Linked DNA regions of Homo sapiens. The protein of the gene in region 3 purifies or fractionates together with the protein of the main gene of each other region. This does not show direct contact. Each region holds a gene or a part of one and is shown on either strand. Other genes may lie near its edges.

Region 1 (5,009 bases), on a different chromosome or scaffold from region 3:
ATTTGTACAAATAAAAAATTATAGGCCGGGCATGGTGGCTCACACCTGTAATCCTAGCACTTTGGGAGGCTGAGGCTGGTGGATCACCTGAGGTCAGGAGATCGAGACCAGCTTGGCCAACATGGTGAAACCCCGTCTCTACTAAAAATACAAAAATTAGCCGGGCGTGGTGGCACATGCCTGTAATCCCAGCTACGCGGGAGGCTGAGGCAGGAGAATTCCTTGAACCTGGGAGGTGAAGGCTGCAGTGAGCTGAGGTTGGCACCACTGCACTCCAGCCTAGGCAACAGAGCGATACTCCGTCTCAAAAAACAAAACAAAATTATAATTCCAGGAGGTGCCTGTTCTTGGCTTCTGCCAGAGGTTACACTTTCCAGCCTGTGGGATGGCCAGACGCAGGCTGCAAAGAAAAAAAAAATTTTATATGTATATATATGTATATACACACACACACACACAAATTGAGATAGTGACAGACAAAGAATTCCAAAAGCTGTTTTAAAAACTAAATTTTCATTATATGTGCCATTAATTTGTAGTATCAGCCCATCTTTTTCAGTTTTGGTATAAGATTAATACAAAGTGAATGACAGACTACATCATTAGTGATCATGATTTGTATAATGTAATTTATGCTTTAGTGAGTTATTTTCCATATAGTAAAATGCCTTTATTTAAAAAAGAAGAGGTACAGTACATTATAATTCCAAGGAAATTTTCGTATTTTAAAAATGCCAATTTTTGGCTAAAAACTCAAAAGATTTCATTTAATACTTGAATAACAAGGAAATTCACAATTAAGGCTGAAATACTGTTCATATTATTGTGTATTTCTAAGCATGTTATTTTAAGCTTGTGTATTTTAAACCATGGTTACAGAATTGTATAGGAATATATTGAAGGCATAACCTTATATTTATTGGAATTTTGGTTTAATTGTTTAGAATTTCAAAATAGTATTGGGATGTGAAACAGGATGATTATCACTCTGATAAAAACAAGACTGAACTGAGTCCTTCACTGTATTTTTCTAAAGAACTCACTTCTAGTGAGTAAGTGTTCAATAACATAAAGTTAGGAAATCTTTATGTTATTAAAATTTGAATTTTTCTTTCACTGTATCCCAATATTTTAAATATGTGTTTCAGGACATTTCCAGTTAAAATAAAAGTTTAAATAATATCCTCACTACATTAAAAATAAGATCTTTAAGTAAACGTATTTCCAAATCATATTGTCATTGTGCACTGAAGTTAATTCTCTGAAGACTAAATTATATGCAATTGAGGTTCTGTTTCCCTTCTAAACGTTCCTTTACTAATTTTTCCAAAGCGAAAAGATGCTCATCTGCTTCTTCTGGCACAAGGTTCCTAATAGAATTTGCAAGTTCAAAAAGATATTCTGTATTTCTTCCACTTGGACCAGCTGCATTAAAAATTTGTTCAGCAATGTCTTCCAGAGGTGCAGGACCAAGATAATCAGGATTATCACATGTTCCAATATATAGCAATACACTGAATGGTTTTGTTGTGGGATCTTTTGGATAAAAAATGACTGTTGTGGTTCTGTAGCCTCCTTTTTCTCTGAAGTCAAGGTATGCTTTTACTTCTTCTTCCTTTCCTACTGGCAATCTGTAAGCAACACCCCATACACATCCCTGTTGAAAAATGAAAAGAATACACTGGTATTATAAGGCTAATTAAAATAGGTGAAGAAAGGTTGTGATCTAAGGGAGTATCTCATATATTCTTTTCTGTTTGTTTTTGAGATGAAGTCTTGTCTGTTGCCCAGGCTGTGGTGCAGTGGCACGATCGTGGCCTACTGCAACCTCAGCCTCCCGGGTTCAAGCTATTCTCCTGCCTCAGCCTCTCAAGTGACTGGGATTACAGGAATGCACCACCATGCCCAGCTAATTTTTGTATTTTTAGTAGAGAAGGGGTTTTGTCACGTTGGCCAGGCTGGTCTCAAACTCCTGACCTCAAGTGATCCACCTGCCTCGGCCTCCCAGTGTGCTGGGATTACAGGTGTGAACCACCATGCCTGCCTGTATCTTGTATATTTTTAAAAGTGGGCCAGGAGCGGTGGCTCACGCCTGTAATACCAGCACTTTGGGAGGCCGAGGTGAGTGGATCACGAGGTCAGGAGTGGAAGACCAGCCTGGCCAAGATGGTGAAACCCCGTCTTTACTAAAAATACAAAAATTAGTCAGGCACAGTGGCAGGCACTTGTAATCCCAGCTACTCAGGAGGCTGAGGCAGGAGCATTGCTTGAACCCGGGTGGCAGAGGTGGCAGTGAGCCGAGATCATGCCACTGAACTCAAGCCTGGGTTATAGAGTGAGACTGTCTCAAAAAAATAAAAAATAAATAAAAGTCAATACAGTTTTTCTTCACTTAAAGTGCACAGAAGAACATACTAAACAATAAAGGAAATAAGCACTTTAAAATCTCCATTGTGAATAATTTCTTTGTATCATAGGCACAGCAAGATATTTTATCTTAAAAAAATTTTTTTTTAATTTGGTCTTTTTCTTTAATAACGGGACTGAAATGAAAAATATGAGCCTTTCACTTGGTCATTAAAAAATTCTAGAAACAAAGTGCCATTTGTTTATTAACTGTTTAATTAGGAGTTATAAGTTACCAATTTGAAGATCTTTTTTATAAATGCTTTTCGTAGTATCAATTATGAAAGCATTTCCTAATCCACACCATTATTTATCTGCCATTACTAACTGCTTGATTTTTGTTTATTAAAGTCCTTTCCAAAGTTAAACATTTAATTTCACAATATAAAATTCTGAATCTGTACCCCAATAAAATGACTGAAAATATTTAAGAAACTGAGGATTGTTGGTTAAATAAAACTTTCTGGTGCTCCAAACCAGTTTTAAAATCACAGGTTCTACTGGGGTCTACGGGAGGGTGGAGGGTGGGAGGAGGGAGAGGATCTAGAAAAATAACTAATTGATACTAGGCTTAATGTTAATACCTGGGTGATGAAATAATCTGTACAACAAACCCCCATGACACATGTTTACCTATGTAACAAACTTGCACATCCTGCACATGTACTCCTGAACTTAAAAACAAAAACACAAAACACAACACACAGGTGCTATTGATACAATTAAGCAATAAAGAAAATAAGAATTCCTCACTTAGATTTCTGCTGAAAATGAGACTGGTAGCAAAAGTGAAGAGAGCTTTTAAGGGTTCCATTTAATTCTCGGTGGTAGTCTGGCTGTCGGGGGCAGGTATTTCCGTTAATGTCAAAGGGGACCACAAAATTCTTAGTTAATAAACTTGTTTTTAAAAAAATCCCACGGCTGGGCGCGGTGGCTCATGCCTGTAATCCCAGCACTTTGGGAGGCCAAGGCGGGCGGATCACGAGGTCGGGAGATTGAGACCATCCTGGCTAACACGGTGAAACCTCGTCTCTACTAAAAATACAAAAAATTAGCCAGACATGGTGGCGGGCGCCTGTAGTCCCAGCTACTTGGGAGGCTGAGGCAGGAGAATGGCGTGAACCCGGGAGGCGGAGCTTGCAGTGAGCCGAGATCGCGCCACTGCACTCCAGCCTGGGCGACAGAGCTAGACTCTGTCTCAAAAAACCCCACAAAAACGAAAACTACATGCTATTTGTCTGTACGTTGTTGTCTACCTTGCACTCTGCATTCTAACTTTTCTTATTGGCCTCAGTTTTCACAAACACAAAAAAAACCCACAAATACAGAGAAGAATTCTAAATTTAGGGTAGTTCAAATTGTCTGTGATGATTGTTAATCAAATTGAAACAGAAACATCGCAACATTTTATAAAATTAAAATTATACAAAAAAGAATATTTATACCATACCGCAGGATCTTCAACAAGAGTCACAACTCTTCCAGGCTGTTTTAAAAAGGTAAAAAAAAATTTTTCTGAATTAATAAAGTTCATTAAGTAGCTGAGCATTAGCAACATTTTTGACATGGAATATTTGAATTATATTTGCTCATAAGAAGCACTATTTCTTAAGCATAGTTATTTTTTATGATAAAGCTTAAGTGAATTAAGAGAACCTACCTTATCTAGAGACTGTGTTGGCCTTTCTAAAAGATTTCCATCAATTTATACGTATTAGGTATATTATATTCACTTTACATGGATATATTGGAAAACATACCAGTAACTAAAGGTCATCTAAAATGAAAGGCAAATGGAAGCAGTAATTATAAATATTCTGGTTTTTCCCTTAAGGAAAAAAGAATGTTATAGTTTTATTTATTTATTTATTTATTTTTTGAGACGGAGTTTTGCTCAACAAGCCCAGGCTGGAGTGCAGTGGTGCGATCTTGGCTCACTGCAACCTCCAACTCTCGGGCTCAAGCAATTCTCTCACCTCAGCCTCCTGAGTAGTTGGGATTACAGGTGCCCGCCAAGACACCCAGCTAATTTTTGTATTTTTAGTAGAGACGGGTTTACCATGTTGGCCAGGCTGGTATGGAACTCCTGACCTTAGGTAATCCACCCGTCTCGGCCTCCCAAAGTGCTGGGATTACAGGCGTGAGCCACCGCACCCGGCCTATAGTTTTATTAGGGGAAAAAAAATATGACATAAAGGGTGCTTTCCTATATATAGGGAAGTGACTTTCAAATTTAGTGGATCAAAATGACCTAGAGGGCTTGACAAAGACATTGTTAGGCCACACCTCCAGAGTTTTTGATTCTGTAGGTCTGGAGCTGTCTAAGAATTTGCATTTGTAACAACTTTCCTGCTGATTTCAGAAATTGTTCTGGGGCTCATACTTTAAGAACCACTGCTACCAGGGGATATTAAGAGGTTTTAAGTGAGAGAGAATGAGTGATTTACACTTCTGAGTTATGAAGTGTTCTTACCTTTCTGTATATGGTAATGGTGCTTCAAGGTAGGCATTTCTTTTACATTCATAAATGAACTTTACTTTGCCCTATTTAAAGGTCAGTATTAGAACTGGCCTATTCGTGTAGTTCTTATATGGGACAATCA
Region 2 (7,116 bases), on a different chromosome or scaffold from region 3:
TGTTAGCCAGGATGGTCTCGATCTCCTGAACTCGTGATCTGCCCACCTTGGCCTCCCAGAGTGCTGGGATTACAGGCGTGAGCCACCGTGCCCGGCCTCTTGCATGTTTGCTTTGATGATTTCTTTTCTGAAGCCCCTTCATAGCGTTTTCTTGCATGTTCGCTTTGATGATTTCTTTTCTGAAGCCCCTTCATAGCGTCTTCTTGCATGTTCATGTTGATGATTTCTTTTCTGAAACCCCTTCATAGTGTCTTCTTGCACGTTTGCTTTGATTATTTCTTTTCTGATGCCCCTCCATAGCGTTTTCTTGCACGTTTGCTTTGATTTCTTTTCTGAAGCCCCTTCATAGCATTTTCTTGCAGGTTTGCTTTGATGATTTCTTTTCTGAAGCCCCTTCATAGCGTTTTCTTGCATGTTTGCTTTGATGATTTCTTTTCTGAAGCCCCTTCATAGCGTTTTCTTGCATATTTGCTTTGATAATTTCTTTCTAAAGCCCCTTCACAGCGTTTTCCTGCATGTTGATGATTCTTTTCTGAAGCCCCTTCATAGCATTTTCTTGCATGTTTGCTTTGATGATTTCTTTTCTGAAGCCCCTTCATAGCATTTTCTTGCACGTTTGCTTTGATTTCTTTTCTGAAGCCCCGTCATAGAGTTTTCTTGCACGTTTGCTTTGATTTCTTTTCTGAAGCCCCTTCATAGTGTTTTCTTGCACGTTTGTTCTGATGATTTCTGAAGCCCCTTCATAGTGTTTTCTTGCATGTTTGCTTTGATGATTCTTTTCTGAAGCCCCTTCATAGCGTTTTCTTGCATGTTTGCTTTGATGATTTCTTTTCTGAAGCCCCTTCATAGCGTTTCCTTGCATGTTTGCTTTGATGATTTCTTTTCTGGAGCCCCTTCATAGCGTTTTCTTGCATGTTTGCTTTGATGATTCTTTTCTGAAGCCCCTTCATAGCGTTTTCTTGAATGTTTGCTTTGATGATTCTTTTCTGAAGCCCCTTCATAGCGTTTTCTTGCATGTTTGCTTTGATGATTCTTTTCTGGAGCCCCTTCATAGTGTTTTCTTGCATGTTTGCTTTGATGATTTCTTTTCTGAAGCCCCTTCAGGGCAGGCGAATGTTGGGTCTCCCACAAAGTCTTACTTTGTTTTGCAACTTGAAAAACCATTTTTTTTTTTTTGAGACAGGGTCTCGCTCTCTTGTCCAGACTGGATGGAATACAGTGGTGAGATCATGGCTCACTGTTGCCTCAAATTCCTGGGCTCAAGTGATGCTCCCACCCTGGTCTCCCAAAGGCCTTGTTTTGTAGTTTTGCTCTAAATTTCAGGAGGTGGCTCCTGGTCTATATCCTGCCTCATGTCCCGTCAACACAGCCTCGGGGTCTGAACCCAGTTGGATCTCTCTTACTGAGGGTTTCTCCAATGTCCGGGTCTCCGGTTGTGAGAGTCACATGAAAGATGTGAGGCCAGCTGGCAGCAGGCTCGTACGTCAACTGAAACTAGAAACCATCTAAGTGAACTGGTTTTCTGTCTCACACGAAATGCTCATGCTGACTTTTGTTTGTTTTGAGACAGGGTGTTGTCCTGTTGCCCAGGCTGGAGTGCAGTGGTGCAATCTTGGCTCACTGCAGCCTCCACCTCCTGGGCTCAAGTGATCCTCCCACTGCAGCCTCCAGAGTAGCTGGGACCCCAGGCACCCACCAACACTCCCAGCTAATTTGAAAAAAAATTTGTAGAGAAGGGTTCTCACTTTGCTGCCCAGGCTGGTCTCAAACTCCTGGGCTCAACAGATCCGCTCGCCTCAGCCTCCCAGAGTGCTAGGATTACGGGTTGAGAGCCCTGCGTCCAGCCTAAGGCAGCACAGGCAGGCGCACAGCACCAGCCACACTGAGGACTCTGTTCTGCCCCTCCTGGGCAGCCTTCCCTCGGCAGCAGGCTTCCTGTCCTGTTCCTGTGTGGCCTTCCCTGGGCAGCAGCTTCCTGTCCTGTTCCTGGGTGGCCTTCCCTTGGCAGCAGCTTCCTGTCCTGTATTGTCTGGGACCTTGCTCCAATCCAGAGCATGAGGTTATTTTCCTAAGTTTGTCACGTCTCCAATTTTGGTGCACAGGAATTTTGGTGCACAGGTAGGAAACTGGGGTCCCACGTGGGAATTCCATGGCGCCCCCTACAGGAAGTCCAGGTCTGACCAGCGCAGCCGGGGTTTACATTTCCACAACCTGGCAGCTCCCCCTCGGCCACAGCAGCACCTTCCCCAGGGCTTCCTAGTGCCATGGTCACCTGTGGTCAAAAGCGATTCCTCAGCTCAACGCCCTCCGGAGCATCTCAGCAGAAAGAACCCCTCCCCCGCAACCCAGTCCTCATGGGCTCCACACGCCCGCCTTCTTCCACACAGCAGCTCCAGGCCCTCTTTTGGACAGACATGCTCAGGGCACCCCAACACCTTGAGTGTAGCCCGTCTCACCCTGCTGAGGCCTACTCCAACTGGCCTTAGAATCATCAGCACTCCCATATCCACCCTGCTCTACGCACTTCTGTGGAACGCGTGGCCTGTGCCCACCACAGGACCCCCTTCTTTCACTTCACGTCTCTCTCCCCCAACACAGCGCACATTCCCTGGGGCCAGGGGCACCCACAGCTCATGCTTCAGCAGCCACCGCCAGGTTGCTTGGTCACACCCCATGGGTCCCAAGGACAGTGTGCTGGGCGTTTAGGAGAGGATGGCTAGGTCATCTATGAACACACGGGGGGCCGCCCCAGGCAGCCAGGACATGTGGGCAGCACGGAGCGAGGGCCTGTGCATTGGGGGAAGCCGGGCACACGGGGCCAGGGAGGCGGGTGGGTGGGAAAGGCATGTGGGACAGGGCACCGGAGCGGACATGTGCTGGCCCACTGTCCGTCACATGAGCCTGGGCAGGTGCAGGTGAGAATGCCCTTCCCTGACACCCAGGTGGAGGAAAAATGGCACCAGATGGGGGCCACAGCAGCCCAGTGGGCAGCACGGCAGAGGCATCACAGACGACCCCGTCCAGCGATGAGAATGTTGGGTGCACACTGGAGTGGCTGCGAGTCATGACCTGGAGACTTCGGAAACTCAACAAGACTGCAGGGCACCCAGGGGCACCAGCCCCGGTCACCGCAGAGGATCAGTGCACTTTGCCATCTGGCAGATCAACTCATGGCACAGCTGTGACACATCACATTCACGCTTGTGAACCGAGACGCCATACCCCAGCGGTGCCGAGAGCAACAGTGCTGTGCAGGTCTGGGCAGATGAGGGCCTCCAGGACACGAGGACTCACTCGCTCACCCTGCCCACTGGGCAGCTGCTCGCCACTCCCCTCCTGGAGGGCAGGACGGACACCACACACACACACAAGCAGGGAGGCTGTGCAGCAGTGGGGAGAAGGCATGGGTGGGAGGGTGCCGCTCCACCCAGGGCAGCATCTGAGAGAAGGTGAACGAGGTGCGGGACAAATGCCGAGGACAAGAGCCAGCAAGAGGGTGGGGCCAGGTGGGTCTGCGGGTGAGTCCGGAGTGTGGGGCCTGCAGATGAGTCCGGAGTGTGGGGCCTGCAGATGAGTCCAGAGTGTGGGGCCTGCGGGTGAGTCTGGAGTGTGGGGCCGGGTGGGCCTGCAGGTGAGTCTGGAGTGTGGGGGCTGGGGTGGGCCTGCGGGTGAGTCTGGAGTGTGGGGGCTGGGGTGAGCCTGCGGGTGAGTCTGGAGTGTGGGGGCTGGGGTGGGCCTGCAGGTGAGTCTGGAGTGTGGGGGCTGGGGTGGGCCTGCGGGTGAGTCTGGAGTGTGGGACCGGGTGGGCCTGCAGGTGAGTGTGGAGTGTGGGGGCCGGGGTGGGCCTGGGGGTGAGTCTGGAGTGTGGGACCGGGTGGGCCTGCAGGTGAGTCTGGAGTGTGGGGGCCGGGGTGGGCCTGGGGGTGAGTCTAGAGTGTGGGGCCGTGGTGGGCCTGCAGGTGAGTCTGGAGTGTGGGGCCGGGTGGGCCTGGGGGTGAGTCTGGAGTGCCGCAAGGCTGGGGAGCTGGGCAGGAGCGTGACAGGAGTGTGGGGGAGGCTGCAAGCCAGCAGGGCGTGCAGATGGCTGCATGGGGGCGTGAGTGTGGCCCCATGGGCACCCGAGGCCTTGGACTGCACAATGTGAGGCCGCCTCCAAGGCTGGGAAGGGAGCCTTGTGCTGGGGTTGAATTCAGCCAGGGCTGAGGCCCATGATGCCCCAGGTGGGAGCCACACACATGTGGGTGGGATTTAAGCCGTGGAAAGAGAGAAGACCCCTGGTTAGACAGAAGCAGGGAGGAGGTGGGCTGAGGAGCCGTGGCAGGGAGCAGCATGGGAGGGAGGCCTGTGGGGCCAGGCGCATGGCTGGGCATGGGGAGGCTGGGCCCGGGACAGGGCCATGGGGCACAATCCTCTCGCACAAGTCCTGCCTGAGAGGTTCTCAAGTGTTGTCATCTCAGTCAAATGGAACACGGACGCCACCTTAACCCGAGTCAGGTGAGGCTGTGCTCCCACAGCAGGATCTGGACAGGGGCAAGGGCGACGGGCCCAAGTGCTGGTCTGGGAGGCTCCAACTGCCATGGGCCCCCACAGCAGTGGACAACTGCCCGATGGCAGAGAGGCCGCCCCAGCTAACCTGGCCCAAAGGTGCCAGAGGGCAGCACCGCCCAGCGTCTGCTCAGCTGTAGCCACAGAGGGCAAGGGTGCCACGTGTTTCTACAGGGTGCCACAGAAAACACGGAAAACGCACCCCGCCTGAGATAAAGGCAAAGCTCTCACGAGGAAGCAATGGAGCATGTGTCAGCGCAAAACCCGGGGTACAGGTATCGGGCGGGAAAATCCTAAGCAGGATGTGTGCAGACACCACAGGGAAATGAGAAGAACCTGGAGAGCCGCTTAGACACTGACTTCCTGCCTTCAGAAGGCTAAGTCCCAGGTGCGTTTCCACAAAGGGTCAGGGCCTCTCAGCTGGGGAGGAGGCCCTCACCACAGCGCAGACACACACACGGGGTGGGGGAGAAACACGCACATTGGGGGGGGGGGGGCACACACACGGGAAGGGGACACACGCACACAGGGGTGGGGACATGCACATGGGGGGAGGGGGACACGCACACGGGGAGGGGGACACACACACACACTGGAGGGGGGACACACGCACACGGGGGTGGGGGGAGGGGAACACAAGCATACGGGGGTGGGGGGAGGGGAACACAAGCATGTAGGGACACAGGCATGCCGGGGGACATGCCACAGGGCGGCTGGCCATAGGCCTGGGGCCAGCTGGGGCGCTGTGCCTGCGTCTGGCGGGCACCCACCTCGATGCCGCTCTGGCGCGCCAGCTTGACAGCCGTGTTGTAGTAGCCGCAACGCAGCAGGTGCTCCACCATCATGCGATCCATGCGCTTCCTCTTCCACACGCTGGCCGCCGCGGGCTGGTCGCTGCTATGCTCTTTGAGGTGCTCGATCCGGCGCTTGCACAGCTTGGCGCTCTCGTCCTCGGCCTGGATGGATTCCACCGCCTGAGCCACACACAACAGAGGCACGTTCAGGACAGGGATGCCCCGCAGCCCTGCACCAAGGGAGGCCAGGCTGCCCCAATCCACAACACTCACAAGGAGAAAAGCAGGGATTACGGGACAGAAAAAAAACCGTGCTCTACCGAGTCCGCTAGGCAGGTGTGCCTGGCCCAAGAGCTGCAGACGGAGGCAGTGAAAATCCACCACCCTGGATCTGCAGCTTCTCTCTGCTATTTCTGGCTTTATATTAATATACCCTGAAGCCATGTTGCCAGATGCATACAATTTCAAATTTGCTATGCCTTTCTGGTTAAACTGTTTATCATTATAAGGTGACTTTAAAAAAATCTTTTGCAATACTTTTTTTCTTAAAGTCAATTTTGTTAAAAATGAATCGGGCTAGATAGAAACGTTCCAGGCCTGTGCTGCCCAACACAGCTGCCACCAGCCCACGTGGCTGCCACACACTTAAGGGCAGTGGTGCAACTGAGGAACTGAATTCTTCGCTAAAAATTTGACAGCACACACGGCGACTGACTACTGGACAGATCCAGGATCCGGGCTGGCTTCTTTCAGCACATTCTACCAATTTTGGCTTCCAACTGCTGTGCAGAAATCAGCTGTCCGGCTGTCTGTTGCCCCTTTGGAAGTCATCTTTTGCCCTCAGGAGCTTTTCAAATATTTCTTTGTCTCTGTTTTCTTCAGTTCCACCACGGGAAAATCCCATGTCGGTTTATTTTCACTTACTCTGTGTCGGATTCTGACCTGGTGGTACTCATCAGTTCTGAAACCTTGGTCACTCTCCCCGCACCATCTCTGTCCCCACCCACTGGTGGGCTCTGGTGAAACATGCCACAGGTTTCTGCTCTATTCCATGCTTTACTCTCGCAGCCACTTTGATTTTTCAGTCTCTGTGCTCCATTCTCGATCACCCTCCAGTTCACTAATTCTGTCTTTAGCTTTGTCTGTTAACTGTTAAACTGTTATAGGCAAATGTTGAGTTTTTCATTTTTGGTTATTATATTTCCCATTTCTTGAAATTTTAGTCCCTTTTAAATTCTGAATTTTTTTTTTTTTTTGGAGACAGAGTCTCTGTGCAGGCTGAAGTGCAGTGGTGCGATCTCAGCTCACTGCAACCTCCAGCTCCTGGGTTCAAGTGATTCTCCTGCCTCAGCCTCCCGAGTAGCTGGGACCACAGGCGTACACCATGCCCGGCTAATTTTTTTGTATTTTTAATAGAGACGGGGTTTCGCCATGTTGGCCAGGCTGGTCTTGAATTCCTGACCTCAGGTGATCCGCCTGCCTTGGCCTCCCAAAGTGCTGGGATTGCAGGCGTGAGCCACTGTGCCTGCCCAATCACTTTTTTAAGACAGTGTCTCACTCTGTTGCCCAGTCTGGAGTACAGTGACACAATCTCTGCTCACTACAACCTCGACCTCCTGGGCTCAAGCGATTCTCCTGCCTCAGCCTCCCAATTAGCTGAGACTACAGGTGTGTGTCACCACGCCTGGCTATTTTTTGTAGAGATGGGGTTTTGCCATGTTGCCCAGGCTGATCTCAAACTCCTGGGCTCAAGCAATCTACCTGCCTCGCCCTTCCA
Region 3 (7,116 bases):
AGAGGCCTGGAAAATGGCCAGCTTCCTCCTGGCCTTTTGTTCTTGGGCACAGGGCTGATCTTTTCTTATAATTCCTTTTGTTTTTCTTTTCTTTTTTTTTTGAGATGCAGTTTCACTCTGTCGCCCAGGCTGGAGTGCAAAGGTGTGATCTCGGCTCACTGCAACCTCTGCCTCCCAGGTTCAAGCAATTCTCCTGCCTCAGCCTCTGGAGTAGCTGGGATTACAGGCACCCACCACCACACCCATCTATTTTTTATATTTTTAGTAGAGACGGGGTTTTACCATGTTGGCCAAGCTGGTCTCAAACTCCTGACCTCAGGTGATCTACCCTCCTTGGCCTCCAAAGTGCTGGGATAACAGGTGTAAGCCACTGTGCCCAGCTAATTCCTTTTGATTTTCTTGGCATCCCCCTCAATGTGAGGTTACATTACTGCTGAGTTAGCATCCAACAAAGAGGTGTTACTGATGTCACTTAGTGGCAGAAACGCCTGCATTTGTTTACCCTTAGGAAGCCCTTTCTCACTAGGGAGCATTTGTGCTAGATGAGCCGCTGTAAGAGGCTGGAAACATTATAAGCAGCAGCTGGGAGCCCCTCTGCTCAAGGAGACTCTAGGTGCCCAGGGACAGCGGGGAGCCCAGGACATCAAGCTCAACATCAAATCTTGGCCCCACTTCCCTCCTGGTTCCAGGTGTGGAGCCTGAAGGAAGGCAGAGGAAACGAACTCTTACAAGGGTTTGCTCTGGGCCACTGGGCTGTGTGTGCCACACAATCACCTCCCTGAATTTGGCATGGTTCCAGGCTTTGGGGCTGGAGTGGGTTCGAATCCTAGCTCTGCCACTTCCTAGCTGGATGACCTTGGGCATATGACTTAGTCTCTCTGTGCCTTGGTTTTTCCATCTGCAAAATGGGAACACTACTAGGCTCACATGTCAGGGTAGTGGTAAGGATTACATGAGAGATACCAGGTGTGGTGGCTCATGCCTGTAATACCAGCACTTTGGGAGGCGGAGGCGGGCAGAACAATTAAGCCCAGGAGTTTGAGACCAGCCTGGGCAACATGGTGAAACCCCATCTCTACTAGAAATACAAAGAATTAGCTGGGTGTGGTGGCACACACCTGTAATCCCAGCTACTTGGGAGGCTGAGGCAGGAGATTCATTTGAACCCAGGAGGCAGAGGTTGCTATGAGCCGAGATCTTACCACTGCACTCCAGCCTGGGCGACAGAGTGAGACTTGGCCTCAAAACAAAAACAAAAATAAAATAAATGAGAGAGTAAGTGCTCAGCTGTTAATACTTTTATACTGATCATAGTAATGCTGTGGTGTGTGTATTTGTTAGGACAAGTGAGGCTAAGCTGTGTTGACAAAGAGATGCAGGCCGGGTGCAGTGGCTCACGCCTGTAATCCCAGCACTTTGGGAGGCCGAGGTGGGCAGATCACCTGAGGTCAGGAGTTCAAGACTAGCTTGGCCAACATGGCGAAACCCCGTCTCTACTAAAAAATTACAAAAATTAGCCTGGTGTGGTGGCAGGTGCCTGTAATCTCAGCTACTCAGGAGGCTGAGGCAGGAAGAATTGCTTGAATCTGGGAGCAGAAGTTGCAGTGAGCCGAGATTGCACCATTGCACTCCAGCCTGGGCGACAGAGTGAGACTTAGTCTCAAAAAAAAAAAGATGCAAAAAAGTGGTGGCTTAAATATGATAGGACTCTGTTTCTCTCTCATAGGACAGTGCAAGTGGAGGAGGTCCAGGGCTGATGGGCAGCTCTGCCATTCAATCTGTGGTTTCCATCTCTGACTCTAAGCTGGATACTGTGGTTTCCAGAAGGTTGGGGGAAGGAATACCAGGGAAAGGCATCTGTAATTGTTTTAACTGCCAGACCTGGATGTGGCATGTTATTTCTGCTTGCTGCCATTGATGAGAACTGAGTCACATAGCTCTCCTAGCTGCGAGGGAGGCTGGAAATGCAGTCTTCAGCTGAACGGTCGTGCACCCATCTAGACCTCTGTTACTTTAGGAGAAAACTAGAATGCATTGGCGAGAAATATACCAGGGTGAGTTTTATGATCTCCATTTCGCAACCGAGGAAACTTGCCCAGAATCTCGCAGTGAATAAATAGTAGAGGTGGGATTTGAACTCTGATCTTCCAGTTCCCAAACTCTGTACCAGGTTGCCCCATTGTGCTTAGGCCTCCCAGTTCTCCATCACCAAGGGGGCTTACAGGAATCAACAGGGGAATGAATTCCTCTTGGACAAGAAGTGGGGTTTCAGAGTTGGTAGTGTCCTGGCTGCAGTGCACAGCACAGATGGCAGGTCTGGGCCTTGGGATTTCTGTGGTGTCTAAGGGAATGGTGGATTTGGCCTCTCAACTTTCTTTACATCCATTCTCTCCAGCAAGAGCTCCTAACTGTTCTGGAAACAAGAATGTTTCCTCCACAATCCCATCACTCTAACAAGCCAATGCTGTGTGTGTCTGCCTGCCTCCTTTCCTCCCTCCTTCCCTTTCCTTCCTTCCTTCCTTTCCTTCCTTCCTCCCCTTCCTCCCTCCCTCCCTCCCTCCCTCCCTTCCTTCTTTCCTTCCTTCCTTTCTCCCTTCTGTCCTCCCTCCCTTCCTCTTTAAGTGTTTCCTCATCTTCTGGGTCCTGTACACAGGCATTCACAAGACCACATGGTTGCAATCATAGCAGAGGCAATTGTATGTTCTGCTTTGTCTATTTTAACTTACACCCTAAGCATTCTTCCACGTTGCTACATGATAATCATAGTTATGTTTGCAGCTGCCTGCTGTCATTCTGGTCTTGCTGCCCCCAGGTCTACCTTCCACTCAGCCCCTGCAGGGAAGTGTCTTAAGATGTGAGTCTGATCCTGTGACTTCTCTGCTTAAAGCCATCACTGGCCTCCAGGACAAAGGATAGACTTCTGGCCAGGTGTGGTGGCTCATGCCTGTAATCCCAGCACTTTGGGAGGCCGAGGTGGGCGGATCACTCGAGGCGAGGAGTTCGAGACCAGCCTGGCTAACATGGTGAAACCCCGTCTCTACAAAAAATACAAAAATTAATGGGGCATGTTGGCGCATGCCTGTAATCCCAGCTACTCGGGAGGCTGAGGCATGAGAATCACTTGAACCCAGGAGACGGAGGTTGCAGTGAGCTCAGATCTTGCCACGGCACTCCAGCTTGGACAACAGAGTGAGATTCTATCTTTAAAAAAAAACAAAACAGGATATGCTTCTGGGCCTGACACCCAAGGCATCCAGACGCTGGCCCTGGTGACCCCCTTACCTCCTCTCCCCCATGCAGCCAGGGTCTTGGCAGGAAGCAGAATTCAGCCCAGATGATTCCAATAAAGAGACTTTAATGGAGGAATGACTTCTAGAGAGTAGGGTGAGGGGACCCAACAAGGAAGTGGGGGACGCAGAGGCCAGCAGCAGCAGCAGACACTCTATGGCAGAGGCACTGGGGTGGCAAGGGAGCTGGGAAGCAATGCCCCGTCTTCCTCCTCTTCCCTCTCTGCCATCTTCTCTGAGTGCCTCCCATTGGCTCAATCCCACTGGAAGCCAGAAGGCCTGGGGAACTGGGACAACAGGGACCAATACGTGTCAGAGAAGGACAGACGATGGACCTGGTGGGTGTGTGGGGCAAATGGAGGACCTCCTGTATACCCCCAGCACCCCCAGGCTTGGGACTCTTGCTGGCATCTGCACCTTTGTAGTGGCAGTGCCCTACTGGATAAACCTGTCAGTCCTTCTCCACCTGGCAAACTCCTGCATCTTCAGTCTCATTTGGACATTCCCGTTTCTGTACCTCCATCGTGGTACTCAACACACAGCAATCAAGACTGCCTGCCCACGACTCTGCCCCCTCCCTGGACCAAGCTCCTTCAAGGAGTGACCCCATCTTTTAATTGTTGAGAGCACGCAGTAAATGGCAGGTGAGCAGGGCTAGGGTGACATGAGTGAGGCAGTAGCCCTTGGTGTGAGATTTAAGCGGGGGAGGAAGGGAGTTTGCTAGAAATCTTAGTAATCAAGACAAAATATTTGAATACAATATTTAAAAAAAAATCAAATCATCAAACTACAGCCCATGGGTTGGCTACCTCTTTTGAGCGCCCACCCAAACTGGAATAGCTCCCAAGACCTCTAGCATGGTGTTCAAAAATTATTTTTGAGTTGGGCGCAGTGGCTTATGCCTGTAATCTCAGCACTTTGGGAGGCCGAGGCGGGCTGATCACTAGGTCAGGAGATTGAGATCATCCTGGCTAACGCGGTGAAACCCCGTCTGTACTAAAATTACAAAAAATTAGCTGAGCTTGGTGGCACGCACCTGTAGTCCCAGCTACTCGGGAGGCTGAGGCAGGAGAATTTCTTGAACCCAGGAGGCGGAGGTTGCAGTGAGCAACCTCCACTCCAGCCTGGGCGACAGAGCGAGACTCTGTCTCAAAAAAAAAAAAAAAGGGTTCACAATGCAGGACTCATCTTTACTTAACATACCCTCTATTCACCCTGATATTTTCTATTCTAGTCTAGTTTATTTGGCGTCATTAAAAAGTGCTGCTCATACCTTTCTTTTCTTTTCTTTCTTTTTTCTTTTTTTTGAGATAGAGTTTCACTCTTGTTGCCCAGGCTGGAGTGCAATGGCATGATCTTGGCTCACCACAACCTCTGCCTCCTGGGTTCAAGCGATTCTCCTGCCTCAGCCTCCCGAGTAGCTGGGATTACAGACATGTGACACCATGCCTGGCTAATTTTGTATTTTTAGTAGAGACGGGGTTTCTCCATGTTGGCCAGGCTGGCCTCAAACTCCCAACCTCAGGTGATCCGCCCGCCTCAGCCTCCCAAAGTCCTGGGATTATAAGCGTGAGCCACCATGCCCAGCCTGCCCATAACCTTTCAAATTCTGGCTTGAAAAACATTGAGCCTGTCATATCATCCTGCTTAATTTTCTCTGCTTTTAGCTGCCTGATACTTCCTTCTTATGATTTGTCTCTTTGCTGATCTCCCGTCTTGCCTTCGGGGTACAGCTCCCTGAAAGCAGGAACCCCATCTAGCTTGTCACTGCTGTCTTCTCAGCTCCGGGAACAGCGTCTGGCACGTAGGCGGCAGGTGTCCCGCAGTGAGCTGTTGAGCAAGCGAGTGAGTGGTGTTGGAGCAGAGGGGATGTGGGCCCTGGAAGCCAGGCTTTTCTAATTGCCTTGTTTTCCTCCCCTTCCCAGTTTGCCCTGGGGCCCCAGCCTGGCCCGGGTCACCCTGGCATGAGGAGATGGGCCTGTTGCTCCTGGTCCCGTTGCTCCTGCTGCCCGGCTCCTACGGACTGCCCTTCTACAACGGCTTCTACTACTCCAACAGCGCCAACGACCAGAACCTAGGCAACGGTCATGGCAAAGGTAGGCGACCTCCTGCACCCGGCTCTTTGCTCCCCTGGGTGACCTAGACCTCCTTGGCTCTTGCTGTGATCTGAGGGTTCCAGGCTGGGACAGGGACAGCAGCCCTGTTCCAGCAGGGCCCTTGTAGTGGGCCAGCTTGCTTCTCAGACAGGGGAAGGGGTGAGTTCATTTTCCTGTGTTCGCCAGCCCCTTCGTCATGGGGCCCAATTCACTTAGGCTTTTTACTTTCCCTAAAAGTCTTGCCAGTTGTTCAAGGTCCAGCTTGAATGTGTCCTCCCCTGGTCCCCCCAGTGGAAAGGGGACCTGGGGTCGAATAGATGTGAGTTTGAATGTTTTTTTTGTTTGTTTTTGAGATAAAGTCTCACTCTGTTGCCGAGGCTGGAGTGCAATGGCACGATCTCGGCTCACTGCAACCTCTGCCTCCCGGGTTCAAGCGATTCTCCTGCCTCGGCCTCCCGAGTAGCTGGGATTACAAGCATGTGCCACCATGCCTGGCTACTTTTTGTATTTTTAGTAGAGAAGGGGTTTCACCATGTTGGCCAGGCTGGTCTTGAACTCCTGACCTCAGGTGATCCACCTGCCTCGACCTCCCAAATTGCTGGGATTACAGGCATAAGCCACCATGCCTGGCCCGAGTTTGAATCTTATAATTCTACCTCTTACTAGCTGTGTGGCCTTGGGCAGGGAACGTTTTAAAGTAGCAGTTATTGTGCACCCAACATGGGTTGGGCGCGCTTCTAGATATTTTGCATATGTCGTCTCCTGTAATCACAAAAGCCCTGATGTAGGCAAGGGTGAAAATATACCTTTTTTTTTTTTTTTTTAAGATGGAGTCTCACTTTGTTGTCCAGGCTGGAGTGCAGTGGCGCGATCTTGGCTCACTGCAGCCTCTGCCTCCCAGGTTCAAGCGATTCTCCTGCCTCAGCCTCCCAAGCAGCTGGGATTACAGGCATCTGCCACCACACCTGGCTAATTTTTGTACTTTTAGTAGAAATGGGGGTTTCTCCATGTTGGCCAGGCTGGTCCTGAACTCTTGACCTCAGGTGATCCACCCGCCTCAGCCTCCCAAAATGCTGGGATTACAGGCGTGAGCCAACGAGCCTTGCCGAAAATACACATTTTTAACCATTAGTGCAGCACGGGTGCTGACCAGGCTGAATTGATGCTGTCTGCCCTCACAGCCTGAAAGTAGATTCTATTATCATCCCTTCTCATAGATGAGCAAACTAGGCTCAGAGAGTTGATCCAGTTGTCCAGGTCAAACAGCTATTAAAAAGACAAAGCTGAGGGCTGGGTGCAGTGGCTCATGCCTATAATCCCAGCACTTTGGGAGACTGAGGTGAGTGGATCACTTGAGGTCAGGAGTTCAAGGCCAGCCTGGCCAACATACCGAAACCCTCTACTAAAGATACAAAAAATTGGCCAGGCGCGGTGACTCACACCTGTAATCCCAGCACTTAAGGAGGCCGAGGTGGATGGATCACGAGGTCAAGAGATCAAGACCATTCTGACCAACCTGGTGAAATCCTGTCTCTACTAAAAATACAAAAGTAGCCGGGCGTGGTGGCAGGTGCCTTTAATCCCAGCTTCTCAGGAGGCTGAGGCAGGAGAATTGCTTGAACCTGGGAGGCAGAGGTTGCAGTGAGCTGAGATCATACCACTGCACTCCAGCCTGAACGACAAAGTGAGACTCCGTCTCAAAAAAAAAAAAAAAAACACAAAAAACAAAAAAT

The links.
Region 1: the proteins of HAPLN3 (region 3) and CHAC2 purify together in Homo sapiens (affinity purification with mass spectrometry; 2 studies listed by BioGRID and IntAct, with this or other methods). This does not show direct contact.
Region 2: the proteins of HAPLN3 (region 3) and MAEA purify together in Homo sapiens (co-immunoprecipitation; 2 studies listed by BioGRID and IntAct, with this or other methods). This does not show direct contact.

The regions. Positions count from the first base shown.
Region 1 is NC_000002.12:53,770,790-53,775,798, reverse strand, and holds the end of CHAC2 (glutathione-specific gamma-glutamylcyclotransferase 2), read right to left. Parts: intron 3,893-5,009; coding exon 3,857-3,892; exon of another isoform or gene 3,855-3,856; coding exon of another isoform or gene 3,852-3,854; intron 1,658-3,851; coding exon 1,274-1,657; 3' UTR 603-1,273; downstream 1-602. UniProt on the Homo sapiens protein: Catalyzes the cleavage of glutathione into 5-oxo-L-proline and a Cys-Gly dipeptide. Acts specifically on glutathione, but not on other gamma-glutamyl peptides.
Region 2 is NC_000004.12:1,313,800-1,320,915, reverse strand, and holds part of MAEA (E3 ubiquitin-protein transferase MAEA), read right to left. Parts: intron 5,520-7,116; coding exon 5,316-5,519; intron 1-5,315.
Region 3 is NC_000015.10:88,885,442-88,892,557, reverse strand, and holds part of HAPLN3 (hyaluronan and proteoglycan link protein 3 isoform 2 precursor), read left to right. Parts: intron 1-3,177; exon of another isoform or gene 3,178-5,132; intron 5,133-5,212; coding exon of another isoform or gene 5,213-5,259; coding exon 5,260-5,383; intron 5,384-7,116. UniProt on the Homo sapiens protein: May function in hyaluronic acid binding.